Linked DNA regions of Homo sapiens: all the other regions are linked to region 1. The links come from fine-mapping of genetic effects on gene expression. A gene starts in region 1. Each other region holds a variant in brackets. All regions are shown on one strand. Distances are between the middles of the regions. Region 1 holds the start of RSAD1 (radical S-adenosyl methionine domain containing 1). Region 2 has its middle 7.1 kb from the start of MYCBPAP. Region 3 holds the start of MYCBPAP (MYCBP associated protein).

Region 1 (6,409 bases):
CAGGCCCAACGCCAAGGTACTGACCACACTGCCAGTAAGTCCAATTGTGGGTACTGAGCGCCCCCTGCGGGGAGGGAGGAAATAGTGCAGAGTGAAGAGGGCAGGCCTCATTTTTAGACTCAGGTAAGGGGCCCCAGGTTAGAATGTCCCACCATCTCGGCCAGGATCCTTCTCTTCAGAAGGTCACAACGCCCTGGTCACACTGCAGTCTGCCCATCCTCCACCTCCAGCCATCAGCCCCAGAACTTACATTCCGGGCAAAGTTGGAGACCTCATACTGGTGGAAGCCAGCCTCCCGAAGGACAGCCCGGCCCCTCTGGTACATCTCAGCTGCGAGCTCCGGGTCAGGGGCTGGAAGGGCACCCCGCTGCACCTGGGCGAAGAGTGCGGTGCCCCGCTCCAGGGACAGCTGGTAGAGGGAGAGGTGGTCATCACAGTGGTGCAGCAGTTCCTGCAGCTGCCCAAGCCACGGCCCCACCTGCTGTGCCGGCAGCCCCAGCATCAAGTCTACAGACACGCGCCCGGGAAAGAGGCGCCGGGCCTCTGCCAGCGTCCGCAGAGCATCGCAGGCCGAGTGCGTCCGTCCCAACAGCCGGAGCTCAGTGTCATCTAGGGACTGGGAAAAGAGGGTGGGTGTAAGCATACCAGCAGCTCAGAGAGAGACAAGAACCCTCCTCCCCATTGTAGACACAGATACAGGGAGAACGCAGCACGTGGCAGGCAGCTGGAAGGCAGGAGGGGGAAGGTCAAGCTGGCACCAAGAGCTGCCATTCACAGAAGGGTCGCTATGTGCCAAGCACCTTTATGTAGTGTCTAATTTAATCTTTGTAACCCTCCAATATTAGTTCTATTTTACAGATGAGAAAACTGAGGTTCAGAGGTGTTAAGTAACTTGTCCAGGCCATACAGTTGCAAAGTTCGACCTGGAATTTAGGACTGTCTGACTCCAAAATCAAGTCTTTATTTACTTTACTTTTCAATTTTAAATAATTCTAACCTATAGAAAAGTTGAAAGAAAATCACAAAAAAAACCTTCATCTTGATTCACCATTTGTCCATATTTGTTTCTCTTTAAACATACATACCTGTTATTATGCTGAATCATTTAACAGTAAATTATAAACCAGCACTGTCCAAAAGAACTTTCTACAATGGTGGAAATGTTCATATCTGTACTGTCCAATATGATAGGTAGTAGCCACATGTGGTTATTTAAATTTAAGTGAATTAAACTTAACTTACCACATTTCAAATGCTCACTAGTCTGTGGCTAGTGGCCACTATATTGAATAGCAGTTATAGATATTATACTCCCTAACCTCTAAATACTTAGGTGTGTATTTCCTAAAGAACAAGGACATTCTCTTACATAACTGCAATCCAATTACAGAGTTCAGGAAATGCAACACTGACACAACACCATTACATAATACATTGTCATATTCAAATTTGGCTAATGGTCCCAATAACATCTACTGTAGTAATTTCCTCCTTCCTCCCCAGTCAGGGGCCACACATTGTATTCAGCTGTCTCTTCTGTCTCCTTTAGATTCTCAGCCTTTCTTTGTCTCTCATGACACTGGCATTTTTGAAGAATACAGGCCAGTTGTTTAAAATGAATAATTTAATGAATTTAAATAAATTATTATTATTTACGAATTATAATTATTTAAATGAATTATTTAAAATGAATAATTTCTACAGATTGGCTGTATAACACTGTGCTTATAGTTAACAGTGCTGTATGTACATTTAAAAACTTGTTAAGACGGTAGATCTCATGCTGTCTGTTCTTACCACAATAATTTTGTAAAAATCTCTTAATTCAGGGTTTCCTGACAATTAGATTCAAGATATGCGCTTTGGGGTAAGAATATCTTAGAAGTGATGTGTTTCTGTCAGCATATTCCATCAGAACAAAGCCCACAACCCGGAAGTCCTACGGAAATATCGGAGGTCAACCTGAGACGACTAGGTTTCTCCCTACTTAAAAACCTTCAATGGCTCCCTATCATTACTAGGACAAAACCCACACTCCTTAGTAGGCACCAAAGGTTTTGGACTCTACCTTGCAACCTTGTTTCCAGCCTCTCCAATCACAAGGAATGACTCACAACTCCCCCAAAACATGCCAGGCTCTTCCATGGCCTGTGTCGTTTCCCCCACACCCCCTCACCTGGTGAACTCTTCCTCTTCATTCAAACATCTCCTCCAGAGAAGTTTCAGTGATTTCATCAGAGTGACCTCCCTTCAGGCTGTACTCTAGAAGCCTTTTATAGAGACCCCCTTTACAGGTGACATTTACCATGCTGCAATAATCTGGCTACATGTCTGCGTCTCCCGTGTCATGTAGCAAATCTTTTTTGACCACCTACTATGTGCCAGGCACTATGGTAAGTGTTTGAAATAGAAAAGCCACACCTGATCCCTTTCTCATAAAGTCTGTGGTCTATGACAGCAGCAGACAATTAAGGAGTTATAAAAGTGTCGCACTAGGCCCTACTGTGTCCCTGGCACCCAGAAGGTGCTCAATCAATGTTTGCCCAATGAATGAATGTGACCAAAGAGGAGATGGCACTGAAGGGCGGGGTGCACTGGGATGGGGTGAGTGCCATGGGTTACCTGGAGGCCTATAGACAACCTGTTAACCCCTGCTGCCCCGAACTCTGCCAGTCTGGAGCCCGGAGCTGAAGTAGGATTAGCCTCCAATGTGACTTCCAAGTCTGCAGGCAGGTGGGCTGCCTGTGCCACAGCCTCCAGGACAGCAGCCACCGTGTGGGGACTGGCTAGACTGGGGGTCCCCCCACCAAAGAACACAGACTCCACCCTGGGGAAAGAGAATGGAGAAATGAGACCTGGGGGAGCCCTCTGGGATGCCTGCACCTATCCCCCACCACTCCTCCAAATATTTCCCAAAACGCTGCCTACAGCCCCCACTACCCACCGTTGCACCCCGCTGAGCCGCAGCAGCGTCTGAGCTTCGGTCACCAGACACTTCTGCATGGCAGCCTCCTCCAGGCGGCGAGGGATGTACTTGTTGAAGTTGCAGTAACTGCAGCGCTTCTCGCAGTAAGGCCACTGGGGGCAGTGAGTGCACGTGCGCGGTGAGAGCTGCCCTGGCCACTTCCAGGGTTCAGTCGCACACACCCCCAACCCCACCCCCACCCCTATCCCGAGGTCTTTCCACAGTAGCTAGGACATCTAAGCCACACAACTCCCCAAGGCAGGTCGCACTGGGGTTATTACATCCACTTCAATGTGAGAAAACTGAGGCTCACTCCTTTGTTACGCTGCCTCTTCCAACCAGCAGACGTCAGGAAGGAATTCAACCCAAGCTCTTTCTGGGATCATATAATTTTCATACAATTTTCCTATGAGCCATTTTCCCAGCTACCGAGTCAGAACACTGCTCTTAAGAAAATTTTGTCTTGCTAAGAGGAAAATTGTTATGAAATTTGAACCATTTGGTCAGAGTCACCGAGCCGGTGAGTAGCAGAGACTTCAGGTTTCTGGACCAAGTCATTTCCCTGCCAAAGCACAGGGTCCCATCCCAGACCTCGTACGGGGGCACGGAAACACGGCAGGCGGGTTCATAGAGTGACAAACCGCCACCTGGGTTTTGGACGGCCACGGTCACGGCCAGGGCTGCGGCCACACACCGTGGGCTCCGCCCCCGCCCCTACTCACGTGTACGTAAAGCGCCGCGCGCCGGCCCGCAGGCTCAGGACTCGGGGACCCTCCTGCGTTCTCCACGCGGCGGCGCCTCTGGGCCGCTCTGGCTGCTGCCGCCCAGCCGCGAGCCCGGGCTCCGGGGAGCGCCATGGCGCCCAGCGCAGCGCGGCGCACTGACCCGAGCAGGAGACGCGCGCAGGGATCACTGTGAGTGCGCAGCCGGCGGAAGGAAGAGGGGCTGCGTGACCGCGCGACAAGAGGGCCCGGGCCCGGGGCTGCGGCGCCACCTGCCGGGCGCCCGGGCGCTCACTGCGGCCTCCTGTCGGTTCTTTCCCCAGGCCGCGAGGCGGGCTGCTTGCCTTTTGGCACCTTGTGCCCGGGCGAGTTCCCGGACCCATCCAGGAGCTCTTAGTTTGTTCAGTCAATTCCTTGACATTTGATGTGCCTGGCTCAGAACTGGGCGCTGGGGACATCTAGGTGCATAAAGCCAGGTTGCATTCTGGCAGGAGAGAGGCAAGCCAACCGGCCAGGACAGGCAAGGCGTATTAATTCCGTGCCTGCTGGACACCAGAGCCGTCCGCCTCAGTGCTGTGAGGTCATCTGTTTTAAGAGTGTGGGAGTCAGTAGGGCAGAAGAGACACTTGGGCTGGATCTTTCTTTTAATTTCATTTACAAATATTTGGGAGAGGGGAGGTCTTGAACTCCTCGGCCTCAAGCGATCCTCCTGCCTCAGCATCTAGAGTAACTAAGGATTAAGGGCATGAGCCACCACCAGGGCTATGCACGGGATCTTGGAGGAGCAGAAAATCCCAGGGGCAATTGGCTTGGCCGGGAGAGTAGACTGTTTTGGGTCAGGCCAACCCAAGCATCTGGAGGTGTACGTGCTGGAAGGACAGTCAGATGGTGTGTGTAGGAGAGAGGGGGAAGGCGCAGGGGAAGGCCTGGGGAAGCAGGCACCTGAACAACTGTCCCACAAAGCAGAAACATCATGGGCTTCAGAGGCAGGCGGTGCAGGACAGTTCTCCCAGTGGCCTTGAACTGACCTGGTTCTCCCCTCCTTTCTTGCTTGTAGTTCTCAAGAATAACTGTAGACGCCTGTAATCCCAGCACTTTGGGAGGCCGAGGCGGGCAGATCACTTGAGATCAGAAGTTCAAGACCAGCCTAGCCAACATGCTGAAACCCCGTCTTTACCAAAAATACAAAAATTATCCAAGCGTGGTGGTGGGCACCTGTAATCCCAGCTACACGGGAGGCTGAGCAGGGAGAATCCCTCGAACCTGGGAGGCGGAGGTTGCAGTGAGCTGAGACAGTGCCACTGCACTCCAGCCTGGGTGATGGAGCAAGACTGTCTCAATAAATAAATAAATAAAACTGTAGAGTGTGCAGAGAATGCAACATCCTGAGGGAAGGAAGGACTGGCCAGCACAGCCATGCTCTGTTCCAGTCCCCCTAGAAAAAGCATGTCCTTCAACACTTCAGCCCAACATGTCACATGGCCCCAGGGTATAAAGCCCAGGGCAGAAGCCGGGCGCGGTGGCTTACTCCTGTAATCCCAGCACTTTGGGAGGCCGATGCGGGCGGATCATAAGGTCAGGAGATTGAGACCATCCTGGCTAACACGGTGAAACCCCGTTTTTACTAAAAATACAAAAAACTAGCCAGGTGTGGTGGTGCGTGCCAGTAGTCCCAGCTACCCGGGAGGCTGAGGCAGGAGAATTGCTTGAACCTGGGAGGCGGAAGTTGCAGTGAGCCCAGATGGCGACACTGCACTCCAGCCTGGGAGACAGAGTGAGACTCTGTATCAAACAAACAAACAAACAAACGAAAAACAGGGCGGGCTGGTTTCTGGGGTCCCTCAGCTTCAGTACAAGTCTGGCTGGCTGGGCGTGGTGGCCCATGCCTGTTATCACAACACTTTGGGAGGCCGAGGCGGGTGGATCACCTGAGGTCAGAAGTTCAAGACCAGCCTGGCCAACATGGCGAAACTGTTTCTACTAAAAAAAAAAAAAATAGCTGGACGTGGTAGTGCACGCCTGTAATCCCAGCTACCAGGGAGGCTGAGGCAGGAAAATTGCTTGAATCCCAGGGTTCACACCACTGCACTCCAGCCCGGGTGAAAGAGCGAGACTCCATCTCACAACAAACCAACAACAAAAAAAAAAGTCAGGCATGCACAGACAACGGTCCATCCCCCAGCTGCCTCAGCAGCTTTCCTGAGCCGTAGGGGTCCAGCTCCAAATGAATCCCAGCCTTCTGTTGTCCCTTAGTGCCTACCTATAGGTAATAAACACGTTGCATGTCACTTGTGTTTGCCTCGCTGGACTCAGCGTTATGTAACTTGTGGGTGTTTGCCTCACTGGACTCTGACAAGTTGGTAACTAGTGTGCAGTGAACCTGCCTAACAGACAGCTGGGTTCTGATCCAGCTGTGTGACCTTGAGCAAGATACGGAACCTCCCTGAGTTTCTGTTGGGTCATTGGTGAAGTGGGACCAATGGCTACTTGAAAGGATTGTTGGGAAGATTTGGAGAGAAAATAATGTGAAAGTACCTAGCACAGAGCCTGGTACTGAAAATACCTTAAACCTATGTTCATTTCTTAAAAAGTCAAGAGGAGGCTGCTGCTGCCTTGGGCAGGCACGCTGGGAGGTAAGGGGGCAGGCACGCTGCGAGGTAAGGGGGCAGGCGCGCTGCGAGGTAAGGGGGCAGGCGCGCTGGGAGGTAAGGGGGCAGGCGCG
Region 2 (5,000 bases), 22 kb before region 1:
GCACCCCTTAAACAATGCATCACATCACTGCCCTCCTTACTACAACCTTGCTCAGCTCACACTCAGCAGGAATCTCACATTCTTCTTAGCCCCAAACACAGGACACAGCTGGACTCTGCTCCCAGAATGGACTGACTTCAGCTTCAGGGATGACACAGAGACTCTGGGACCTTCTTAGGAAGGACACAAGGAGGGATTTTCAGAGGCTTTGGAGTACAGTGTGTGTTTGCTTCTCAACTTTGCCCCCACTTGGGCTGTCTGCTTTAGAGTGGGGACAGTGAACTAGGCATGGTGGCTCACACATGCAATCCCAGCACTTTGGAAGGTCAAAGCAGAAGGATCACTTGAGCCCAGGAGCTTGACACCAGCCTGGGCCACATAGTAAGACCCCGTCTGTACTAAAAATAAACATTTTGAAAATTAGCCGGGTGTGGTGTTTGTGTGTGTCTGGAGTCCTAGTTACTCAGGAGGCTGAAGCAGGGGGCTTGCTTGGAGCCCAGGAGATCAAGGCTGCAGTAAGCTATGATTGCACCACTGCACTCCAGCCTGAGTGACAGAACGAGACCCTGCTTCAAAAAAACCCAAAGAAACAAAAATAGAGTGATAGACTGGGGACAGTGCCTGTCTCACAAGGTCACAGTCACCTTCTATTGCCTCATCCTTTTTGTCATCCTCAGAACTCCTACACATACACTTCTGTGGGATCTGTCTGCCCCGCTAAAGCACAAGTTCCAGAGGTGCAGGAGCCTATCTGTCGGCTTCATGGCTGTGTCCCCCATTCCTGGCTGGCACATGTGGGCCATCCTAATGGATGGGTGTAGGGAGCCTGCAGGAGCATCAGTGAGCCTATGGTCGCTGCCTTCCATGATCTGTGGGGCAGGGAGAGAGCTGGCTCCTCCCATGCAGCAGCACCCAGGGGCAGAATCACAAACCACAGCAACATACTCCTAAGAAGACTGCTATGAGAAGACAGTTCTAAGAATCAGGGCTCCCTCTGAGCATGCAGGAGTTCCTGCGCCGGTCCAGTCAGCCTGGGCTGCTGGGGAGGACACGCCCAAGATGGATGGACATTGAGTTCTGGGCTCTGTCCCGTGGACCTCCACCAAAAAAATGGTTCTCTGCCTGCACCCCTCCATCCTCGCTCTGGGCAGAAGGCCACCTTCTGAGGGCAGATTCAGGGCTGAGGGAGCTGGTTCACCTTGGGGACTTCTTCCTAAATTGTGGGGGTAGCTGAGGAATTGTCCTTCTCCATCGGTGAGAATAGTGTTCTAGTGATGCATGGCTGGGAACTGAGGGGGCAGATGCTGAATCAAAAGCCCTGGGCCTGAGTCTCTTTTTAGCTGTGTCACCCAGCACGAGGCCTCCGCTCTGAGTTTCATCTTCCTCCCTCACAGAATGGGCTCAGCACAGCCTTCATCTACTTTCCAGGATGGATGCAAGGTGGAAAAAAGAATGTGTGTGAAAGCTATACAGATGAAAGGGATTATAGTTAAGGCCTGGGACACTCAAGTCAACTAGATCATTTCTCTCTTAGTGTGATAGGCAGAATAACCTCTCCACCACAGATGTCCACCTCCTAATCGCCGGAAGCTGTAAATATGTTACCTTACAAGGCAAAAAGGATTTTGCAGATGTGATTAAGGATCTTGAGATTCAGAGATGATCCGGGATTATCCGGTGGGCCCCATGTAATCACAAGCGTCGTTACAAGAGGGCGGCAGAAGGGTCAGCGTCAGAGAGGGAAATGTGCTAATGGAAGCGGAGGTCAGAGTGTGTGGCTCCGATCCAAGACATGCCGCAAGCCTTAAGAAGCTGGAAAAGGCAAGAGGCAGATTCTCTCCTAGAGCCTCCACAAGGAACACAGCTCTGCAGACACCTGGACCATTTCAGACTTCTGACCTCCAGAGGCTGCAAGATAAATTTGTGTTAAGCCACTAAATATGTGGTCATTCGTTAAGGCAGAAACAGGAAACTAACACAGACAGGGTCATAGAAACACTTTGAAATCGAATTCTCTAACTCCTATTCAAAAGTCCGTCTCAGTCCATGAAAGCTTCTGTTCTTACCAAGTTAGCTCATGGCTCCCAGGCTATCATTAAGTAGGTCACTGCCAGGCCAGGTGCGGTGGCTCACGCCTGTAATCCCAGCACTTTGGGAGGCTGAGGCGGGTGGATCACGAGGTCAGGTGTTCAAGACCAGCCTGGCCAAATAGTGAAACCCCGTCTCTACTAAAACTACAAAAATTAGCCAGGCGCAGTGGCAGGCTCCTGTAATCCTAGCTACTCATGAGGCTGAGGCAGGAGAATCGCTTGAACCTGGGCGGCAGAAGTTGCAGTAAGCCGAGATCGTGCCACTGCCCTCACTCTAGCCTGGCCTCAGAGTGAGACTCTGTCTCAAAAAAAAAAAAAAAAAAAGTAGGTTGCTACATATCTGTCTTGAGTTCCAGTAGCAGAGCATGCTACAGTTGAC[G/A]CACCCAAGTTCAAATCCCAGCTCAATAATTTTCTAGCTCGATGACCTTGGGCTAAGTCACTTAACCTCTCCGAGTCAGTCTCTTTCATGACAAAAATGGGAAAGGGCAGCAGGGGGCGTTGTGAGAATTAAATATGATTCCCTTGAAAACTCTCACAGATAAATTAAATTTTAATTTCATATAAAATAATTTTTTAGTATAAGTATTTCCCATATAATATTTTGGATATGTTTACACAAAAAATATATTCATTGTTTATCTGGTCATTGTTTAATATCATTGTTCTTCATTAATATATCGTTAAACAATATATCATTAAACAAAATCATTAAACAATATACATTGTTTATCTGAAATTCAAATGTAACTGGGTGTCTGTATTTTTGTTTGCTAAAGCTGACAACCTTAGTCTTGTCCCAGGTCACATAGCTTGTAAGCAATGGAGCTAAGCCTCCGTCTCAGGCTTTCAGCCCAAAGTCAAAGAGCATCCTGCTGTTTCACAGGCCTGACCATAAGCGGATTCCCTGAGCTACATGGCAGTCCTAGACTCAATCCAGTTGAGACTTCAAAAACAAATGCGATTTAAGCCTTGGACACACCTCAAAAATATCAAAAGTGATAAAAGTGATCATGAAAATACAATTTAAAAACAATATGCAAATAAATGCTTATATATATTATATATGTATATATATAAAGCATGTCAAATCAAGATGGAGTATGAAATGAGAGAAGAAACTACATGCAAATAAATGCTTTAACATGTATTAAGTATGCAAATTCAATCTTTTTTTTTTTTTTTTTTTTGAGATGGAGTCTCGTTCTGTCACCCAGGCTGGAGTGCAATGGGGCGATCTCGGCTCACTGCAACCTCCGCTTCCTGGGTTCAAGCGATTCTCCTACCTCAGCCTCCCGAGTAGCTGGGACTACAGGCGCGTGCCACCATGCCCGGCTAATTTTTTGTATGTTTAGTAGAGACGGGGTTTTACTGTGTTAACCTGGATGGTCTCAATCTCTTGACCTCATGATCTGCCTGCCTCAGCTTCCCAAAGTGCTGGGACTACAGGCATGAGCCACCGCGCCAGGCCATGAATTCGATTTCTAAAGGTGATGTTCCTTTTATGTTTTCCTTCGGAAATCTGGACCAACCCATAAATTCAGTGGAGTTTATAAACTAAATGGCAACTAACTGAAGGCTTATCATGGCCTGCATAGCCTTCTAAGCATTTTATGTGTAATAATTCCTTTTTGAATAAAATTGAGATAATTTACATAAAAAATTTTATATAACATAAAATTCACCATTTTAAGGATAAAATTCAGTGTTTTTTCTTCTTAGTATATTCACAAGGTTGTACAACCATTACCACTGTTCAATTCCAGAACATTTCCATCATCCCAAAAGAAACCCTGTACCCATTAGTCACTCCCCATTCTTCCCTACCCGCTAATCCCTGGAAACCACTAATCTACTTTCCGTCTCTATGAATTTGCCTATTCTGGACATTTCATATACATTAAATCATACAGTATAGACCTACTTTGTGTCTTTTTTTTTCACTTAGCATAATGTTTTCATGTATTCATTTCACTGCTGAATAATATTTCATTGTATGAAGATGCCATATTTTATTTATCCATTCATCAATTGATGGGCATTGGGCTGTTTCCACTTTGTGGCTATTATGAATACTGCTGCTATGAACATTTGTGCATAAGTTTTTGTATGATTACATGTCTTTAATTCTCTTGGGCATATACCTAGGAGTGGAGTTGCTGGATCATATGGTGACACTAAGTTTAACTTTTTTAGGAACTGCAAGACTGTTTTCCACAGAAGCTGCACCATTTTGCATCCCCACCAGCAGTCTGATTTCTCCACATATTCACCAACACTTGTTATTATTATTATTTCTATTATAACCATCCTAGTGGGGGTTGGGGGGGTCATATCATAGTTTTGTTGTCCATTTTCTTAATGGCTAATGATGTTGAGCATCTTTTCATGTGCTTATTAGCCACTTGTGTATTTTATTTAGAGAAACATCTTTTCAAATCCTTTGCCTATTTTTATTTTATTTATTTTTTGAGAGAAAGTCTCACTCTGTTGCCCAGGCTGGAGTGCAGTGGTGTAATCTTGGCTCACTGCAACCTCCACCTCCCAGGTTCAAGCAATTCTTGTGCCTTAGCCTCTCGAGTAGCTGGGATTACAGGTGTGCACCACCACACCTGGCCCATTTTTGTCTTTGTAGTAGAGACAGGGTTTCACCATGTTGGCCAGGCTGGTCTCGAACTCCTGGCCTCAAGTGATCTGCCCACCTCGGCCTTCCAAAGTGTTAGGATTACAGGTGTGAGCCACTGCGTCTGATCTTTTGCCCATTTTTAAATTGGGTTGTCTTTTCATTGTTGAGCTGTAGGAGTTCTTTATAAATTGAGGATATTAAACTCTTATCAGATACATAATTTGTAAATATTTTCCCCCATTCTGTGGGTTTTCTTTTTACTTTCTTAATAGTGCCCTTTGATGTAC
Region 3 (6,409 bases), 31 kb before region 1:
TTTTTGGGGGCCAAAGCTCCCATCCCTTCAGTGATAGAGAAGCTAATCTTTCATGTTTGCTTTAGATTGAAATAGTAAAACTCTGGTCTAAGGTTATTCTGAGAAAGTTATCTTTAATGTAGTCCAATAAATGCTCTGTTACTGCATACAGTCAGGGAGTGGTATGTTCTAGTTATTAAAATATTCATTAAAATGATATATACATCTTTTTTTTTTTCTTGAGATGGAGTCTCACTCTGTCCCCCAGGCTGGAGTGCAGTGGTGTGATCTCAGCTCACTGCAACCTCCGCCTCCCGGGCTCAAGTGATTCTCCTGCCTCGGCCTCCCGAGTAGCTGGGAATACAGGCATGCGCCACCATGCCCAGCTTTTTTTTTTTTTTTTTTTTTTGAGATGGAGTTTCACTCTTGTTGCCCAGGCTAGAGTATAATGGCGTGATCTCGGCTCACTGCAATCTCTGCCTCCCAGGTTCAAGCGATTCTCCTGCCTCAGCCTCCCAAGTAGTTGGGATTACAGGCATGCACCAACATGCCTGGCTAACTTTTTGTATTTTTAGTAGAGGCTGGGTTTCACCATGTTGGCTAGGCTGGTCTTGAACTCCTGGCCTCATATGATCCACCTGCCTCAGCCTCCCAAAGTCCTGGGATTACAGGCATGAGCCACCGCACCCGGCCGCCCAACTATTTTTTGTATGTTTTGTAGAGACAGGGTTTCACCATGTTGGCCAGGCTGGTCTCAAACTCCTGACCTCAGGTGATCTGCCCACCTCGGCCTCCCAAAGTGCTGGGATTAGAGGCATGAGCCAGTGCGCCCAGGGATATATATGTATCTTAAAGTTAAATTGCTCCTCGAGAGTGCTTACCAAGCCCCTTCTATGTGCTATAAACTACAAAGATGGTATAAAAGGTTAAGATATGGCTCCTTCTCTTGAGGTACTGAAAAATGTGACAGGAACACACACCAATCATAGCTAGAGGAGTTCCTACATTTGCGGTACAGGCAATAGGTTTGGTTAGACATCAAAAAAGGAACAGATCCATGTGGATTACACAGTTCAGGGCTCTGAAGAAGTGTTCAGAGGAACAGCTGCAGAGGTGGCTCCACAGGCTGAGGCAGGCTGCAAAGGAGAGGCAAGCTTTGCACAGGTACAGCGGCAAACCAAGATGCTCCAGGTGAAGTCAAAGTCCAAGCAAAGCAAGGGGCAGGGCTGAGCATGGCACGTGAGTGGCACGATAACACAGAAAACTTGCTGGGGGGCCGGGCGCGGTGGCTCACGCCTGTAATCCCAGCACTTTGGGAGGCCGAGGCAGGTGGATCACGAAGTCAGGAGATCGAGACCATCCTGGCTAACACAGTGAAACCCCGTCTCTACTAAAAATACAAAAATATTAGCCAGGCGTGGTGGCGGGCACCTGTAGTCCCAGCTACTCGGGAGGCTGAGGCAGGAGAATGGCGTGAACACGGGAGGCAGAGCTTGCAGTGAGCCGAGTTTGCACCACTGCACTCCAGAGCCTGGGCGACAGAGCAAGACTCCGTCTCAAAAAAAAAAAAAAAAGAAAACTTGCTGGGGAGGTGGAGAGGTGGTGATGTTGGGGATGAGAGGGAAACCAGGGCATGACAGCTTTGTAAAGCATGGCTCAGGCATCTGATCTTTGGTTCAGGGGAGTGAGTTGATGACAGGTGCATTTCAGAATGATTCATCAGATGAAGAGAGCCAGATGGACCGGAGAGGCAGAGGCAAGCTGGGGAGACCAGGGAAGGAAGAGCCCCAGGGATCATTTTAGGACCTGCAGGAAGACTCCACAGGGCTGAGGTATGTCTGACTACTGAGCCTATACAGGCCCAGCTCTTTCTGGTTCTTTGGTCTGGAATCCCAAGCTGATAGGGCTCCTAGTGAGCCACCCAGCTGACATTTCTCCCTTGATGCTGACAGTGAGGGGTAAAAGAGACCACCCCGCTTGCACGGGGTAGTCAGTCTCTTGTCGGAGCTGGACCAGAGGGCTGGAAGCAAGGTGCTCAGGTGGGGGTAGGAAGCGAGATACGGAGCGGGGAAACTATGGAGGGAGAAGAAACCCGGACTCTATTTCTTCTGCTTCTTGTTTTATCTAAGTATTATTCGTTTTTAGTGTTGATTAAAGTCTTTGGGAAATTCTGACCTTAGGGTTGGGCTGGGGGAACCATGGAGGGGCTGTCCCTACTAGGGCAGAGCTTTAATTGGTTGGGGAGGGGAATCTAATATTGCTAGGAGGGTTCTTGGTTTCTTAGCAACAAGACAGCGGTGGGGAGGTGGTGCATAGCAGGAAGGGAGGGTACTAGGACTCAAAAGGGCTCTCAGGTCCCGAGAAACAGGTTTAAGTCACTATTTTTGCTTTCCTTTTTGCTTATGAGTCAGAGACTTTGGAGAAACATCGCACAAGGTTACAAAATGACACTGGGTCATTAGCTGCCTTGTATGGGGGCTGGGGGAGAGTACTGCTCTACAACATTAGAGGCTCCCCTGAGATATTTTTAAAAAGATATCTTGCATGCTAAACACTTCATTTTTTTT[C/TC]CCTCCTCACTCTGGTGCATGTTCTTAACTCAAGGGTTAATTAACAAACTAAATTTTCTGCTTATTAAAAATAAATATGCAGTGAAAAATCTTTCCTTGATTTGTTTACAGCAGTTCAAATCTGATACGATCTCCCAGAAACTATGTGAGCAGGAGGCAGTGGCTAGGAAAGCCCTTGACTGCCCTTGTGAAAGGAGACCAGATATTCCCTCTCTCTCAACTATTAAAAAGTATGTCACGGGCCAGGCACGGTGGCTCATGCCTGTAATCCCAGCACTTTGGGAGGCCAAGGTGGGAGGATCGCTTGAGCCCAGGAGTTTAAGACCAGCCTGGGCAACTTGTCTCTACAAAAAAAAAAAAAAAAAAAATTTGCCAGGCATGGTGGTGTGCACCTGTAATACTAGCAACTTGGGAGGCTGAGGCAGGAGGTTCACTTGAGCCCAGAAGTTCAAGACTATAGTGACCTATGACTGTACCACGGCACTCCATCCCGGGTGACAGAGCGAGGCCCTGTCTCAAAATACATATATATATATATATATATATATATATATATATATACACACACACACACACACACACACACATATATACACATATACATAATATATATAAAATACATACATATATATATATAGTATGTCATAAAACAGCATTGGACTTTTATTTTTTTAATAATGGGGGTCTCACTGTGTTGCCCAGTCTGGAATGCAGTGGCTATTCACAGGTGTGATCATAAACTCCTGGCCTGGAACAATCCTCCTGCCACAGCCTCCTGAGCAGCTGAGACTGCAGATGTGCACCACCATGCCCGGCTCAACGTTGGACTTTTATACGTGAAGAAACATAAAGCCATACTGAAAAGCGACTAAGCTCCTGTTAGTTTTCTGAGGGTCCCCTCTCCTCACAATGAGCTTTCACAACTCTGAGGCTGGGTCTCCCCAGGGCCTGCAAGAGCACATCCAGGCTTTCTGACCTAGTACATAAAGCCCTTTCATGGTCTGGCCCCTGACCTACCCACCTGTGCAGCCTCTTCTGGTTCCCACATTTACAGTTCCATAAACTCATGCTGCTTCCTAGACCTAGAGAAGCAAACCTCTCCTTTTTTTTCTTGTCTGCCATAGATGTCACCTTCTTCAGAAGACGTACCCCTACAACCATCCCTGGTCTGGCTCAGGTGCTCTGAGCCCCCTTAAGCCCGATGGGCACCTACATCACAGCATTTGTATTTCTACCTTTGTCAGGTTACTCCTCCAGGTGTTCATTAGACTGAGTTTCTTGAGGACCAGGGTCACACAGTTAATACCGATACCCTTCTGGTGAGCCACAGTACCACACAAAATCAGCTCTCAGTAAACAAAAATAGGCTGGGCGCAGTGGTCCATGCCTGGAATCCTAGCAGTCTGTGAGGCCGAGGCAGGAGGATCGCTTGAGGCCAAGAATTTGACACTAGCTGGGGCAACACAGCGAGAGCCCTGTTTACAAACACACACACACACACACACACACACACACACACACACAGAAAAAAAAAGCTAAAAATTAAATTTAAAAATAAATAAATGGAAACAGCCAAAAAAGATCAAAAGGGGGTGGGTTGCAAGTGAGAACATGTCCATGGAAGTCAGTCCGCTATCAGACGCCCTGTGGCTCTCCCAGGTGCAACCAGAAGAAAGCTGTAGAGGGTAGGAAGCAGTCATATCTAGCGATTCTTTCCAGGCTAAAGGAGCTGGATAAGTGTCATCCAGCTGGAAAGTGCACGTGGTAGGAAAAGGCAGTCAAAAAGAGAACTAGCCAAGCAAGGCCTTTCTTCTGGGTTTTTCCAGCAGGAATCCTAAGTGACGCCTGCCCCGCTCCCCGACCCTCCTCTACCAAATAATCCCATCAAGGTGGCTGGTTTCAACACTTCATTCTTTCCTCTTCCCAAGGACCCCAATTCCTGGCCCTTCTACCCTTAAACTCTTTCCTGGCTCTTCTGCACTTCATCCAGTCCGGGGATCCTGCCTCCTGCATGCCACCCTAAGATGTGGTTAGAGGTAGCGCAAGGCCATCTCCCCAGCCAGTGGTCCCTGAGGCCCCTCTGTCAGTCTCCCACTTCCTATGTCCCCATCCCCAAGGCCCAGTGCGCTGTAGGCTCTTCCTGCCTTGCCCCCCATCCCTAAGGGTCCTATGCCCAGTACCCCACTTCCCCGTGATCTTTCCTCCATCCCTGGTGCCATCCCCATCCTCCAGGCCCCGTGTCCTGAACTCTTTCCGGGGACCGCTTCCCCTCTCGGGTTCTCCCGAGCGCCCAAGGCAGCCAGCGCCAACCTTTGACATTCTCTGAGGCCTCTAATAATCTGGTCGGAGTTATTCTGAGGCGGGAATCCTTCTTTAGAGACTTCATGGTGCCGCCCGGCACCATGAAACGTTGCCCTGCACCGCCGGCCCAGAGACACCGAGGCTGCGCCGCACCCGCCAGCCAACGGCCGCCACTGCGTCCACAGCAACCGGTGCCCCGCGCGGGGGCGCGCATCCACCGATCAACTTGGGCGGAGACGGCTTGGAAACCTCCTTCTTCATCGGGCCGCGCACGCGCCCGCCGCCGGCGGCTTCAAGAGCGACGGACCCCTAGAAAGCCCTGCGGGCCCGGCCTGTGACGCCACAGGCGGCGCCGACGAGCGCCGTGACGTCACCAGCCGGGCGGGGCGGGGCGGGGGACCCGGGCGAGGACCCCCGCGAGTTGCGGGAGCCGAGGGCTGGGTGGGAGTGGCTGGCTGGTAGGGGTGCATGACCCGCCTCGCCCCGCCCTGCTGCTAGGCCACGGGGGGCGGGTGGGGCGTCGGGGGTGCCAGCCCCTGCTTCCCGCCTTCCTCGACTAAGGCCACATCCTGTCGAGGGACCTCCCTCTGCCCCCCTCACAGCGGTTCTGGGGGGGGATCGGGCCTTTCAGGACGTGCTGAAACCCCTTCGTGGCGTACCGTAGGTTTTAGGTGTCCCTGCCTGCCGTCCCCAACTCGCACCAACGCGCCTGGAGACCTCCCGGGTCCACGCTCGCTGCAGCCACTTTGGCCTTTCATCACTTCCCAAACCAGCCAAAACTTTTGCCCTGACTTGGGGCATTCTCACAGTCCTTGGAGATGCTGCCTCTGATTATTTTAAGTTTATAAACGCACCCGCTTTTTTCGCCTTCCCCTGGAGCCCTGAGGCATTCTGGGATTATTTCGGTTTTTTGTGTAGTTGCCTATTGTCAAACTGGCTCTCAGAATGTATGAGAGCAGGAGCTGCCTCAGGCCCTGCCCCCAACCCAAAGTTTAGCACTAGTAGTCAGGCAGTAAATTGTACCTCAAATAGTGAAGGGGTTCTAGAGCCAGACAATTGGGTTCTAATCCCAGCTATGTCGGCTTGTTAGCTGTGTGTTCTTGAGCCAATGCCTTGACCTAGAGAGCCGGTTTTCTCTGCTGGGCACAGTGGTTCAGGCCTACAATCCTAGTGCTTTAGAAGGCTGAGGCAGGAGGATTGGTTGAGGCCAGGAGTTCAAAATTGACCTGAGCAACGTAGGGAGACTCCATTCTAAAAAAAAAAAAAAATTTTTTTTTTTTTTTTTTTGAGACGGAGTCTTGCTCTGTGCCCAAGCTGGAGTGTAGTGGTGCCATCTCGGCTCACTGCAACCTCTGCCTCCCAGGTTCAAGCGATTCTCCTGCCTCAGCCTCCTGAGTAGCTGGGATTACAGACGAGTGCCACCATGCCTGGCTAAGTTTTGTATTTTTAGTAGAGATGGGGTTTCACCAGTTGGTCAGGCTGGTCTCGAACTCCTGACCTCGTGATCTGCCCGCCTCGGCCTCCCAAAGTGCTAGGATTACAGGCGTGAGCCACCGTGCCTA

What was found. PIP is the estimated chance that this variant, and not a neighbour inherited with it, causes the effect. A credible set is the group of variants that fine-mapping cannot tell apart.
Region 2: its variant is the best candidate, but not a certain one, in a credible set for the expression of RSAD1 in whole blood (TOPMed, PIP 0.58).
Region 3: its variant is the best candidate, but not a certain one, in a credible set for the expression of RSAD1 in whole blood (INTERVAL, PIP 0.56).

Annotation. Positions count from the first base shown.
Region 1 is chr17:50,476,298-50,482,706 of GRCh38, reverse strand. It overlaps RSAD1 (radical S-adenosyl methionine domain containing 1), which reads right to left and starts at 3,847. Exons shown (of 9, transcript NM_018346.3): 1 at 3,688-3,847; 2 at 2,945-3,078; 3 at 2,623-2,827; 4 at 251-616; 5 at 1-64. The coding sequence starts at 3,822. RefSeq lists an enhancer at 1-199 and silencers at 2,634-3,020, 3,592-4,081.
Region 2 is chr17:50,498,835-50,503,834 of GRCh38, reverse strand. No RefSeq gene overlaps it. Among named protein-coding and RNA genes, the nearest start is that of MYCBPAP, 7.1 kb to the left of the region's middle. The variant G/A (reference allele first, on the strand shown) is at 2,470.
Region 3 is chr17:50,507,198-50,513,606 of GRCh38, reverse strand. It overlaps MYCBPAP (MYCBP associated protein), which reads right to left and starts at 5,168. Exons shown (of 19, transcript NM_032133.6): 1 at 4,857-5,168. The coding sequence starts at 4,932. RefSeq lists silencers at 2,112-2,201, 5,173-5,462 and enhancers at 2,302-2,501, 4,943-5,072, 5,093-5,152. The variant C/TC (reference allele first, on the strand shown) is at 2,547.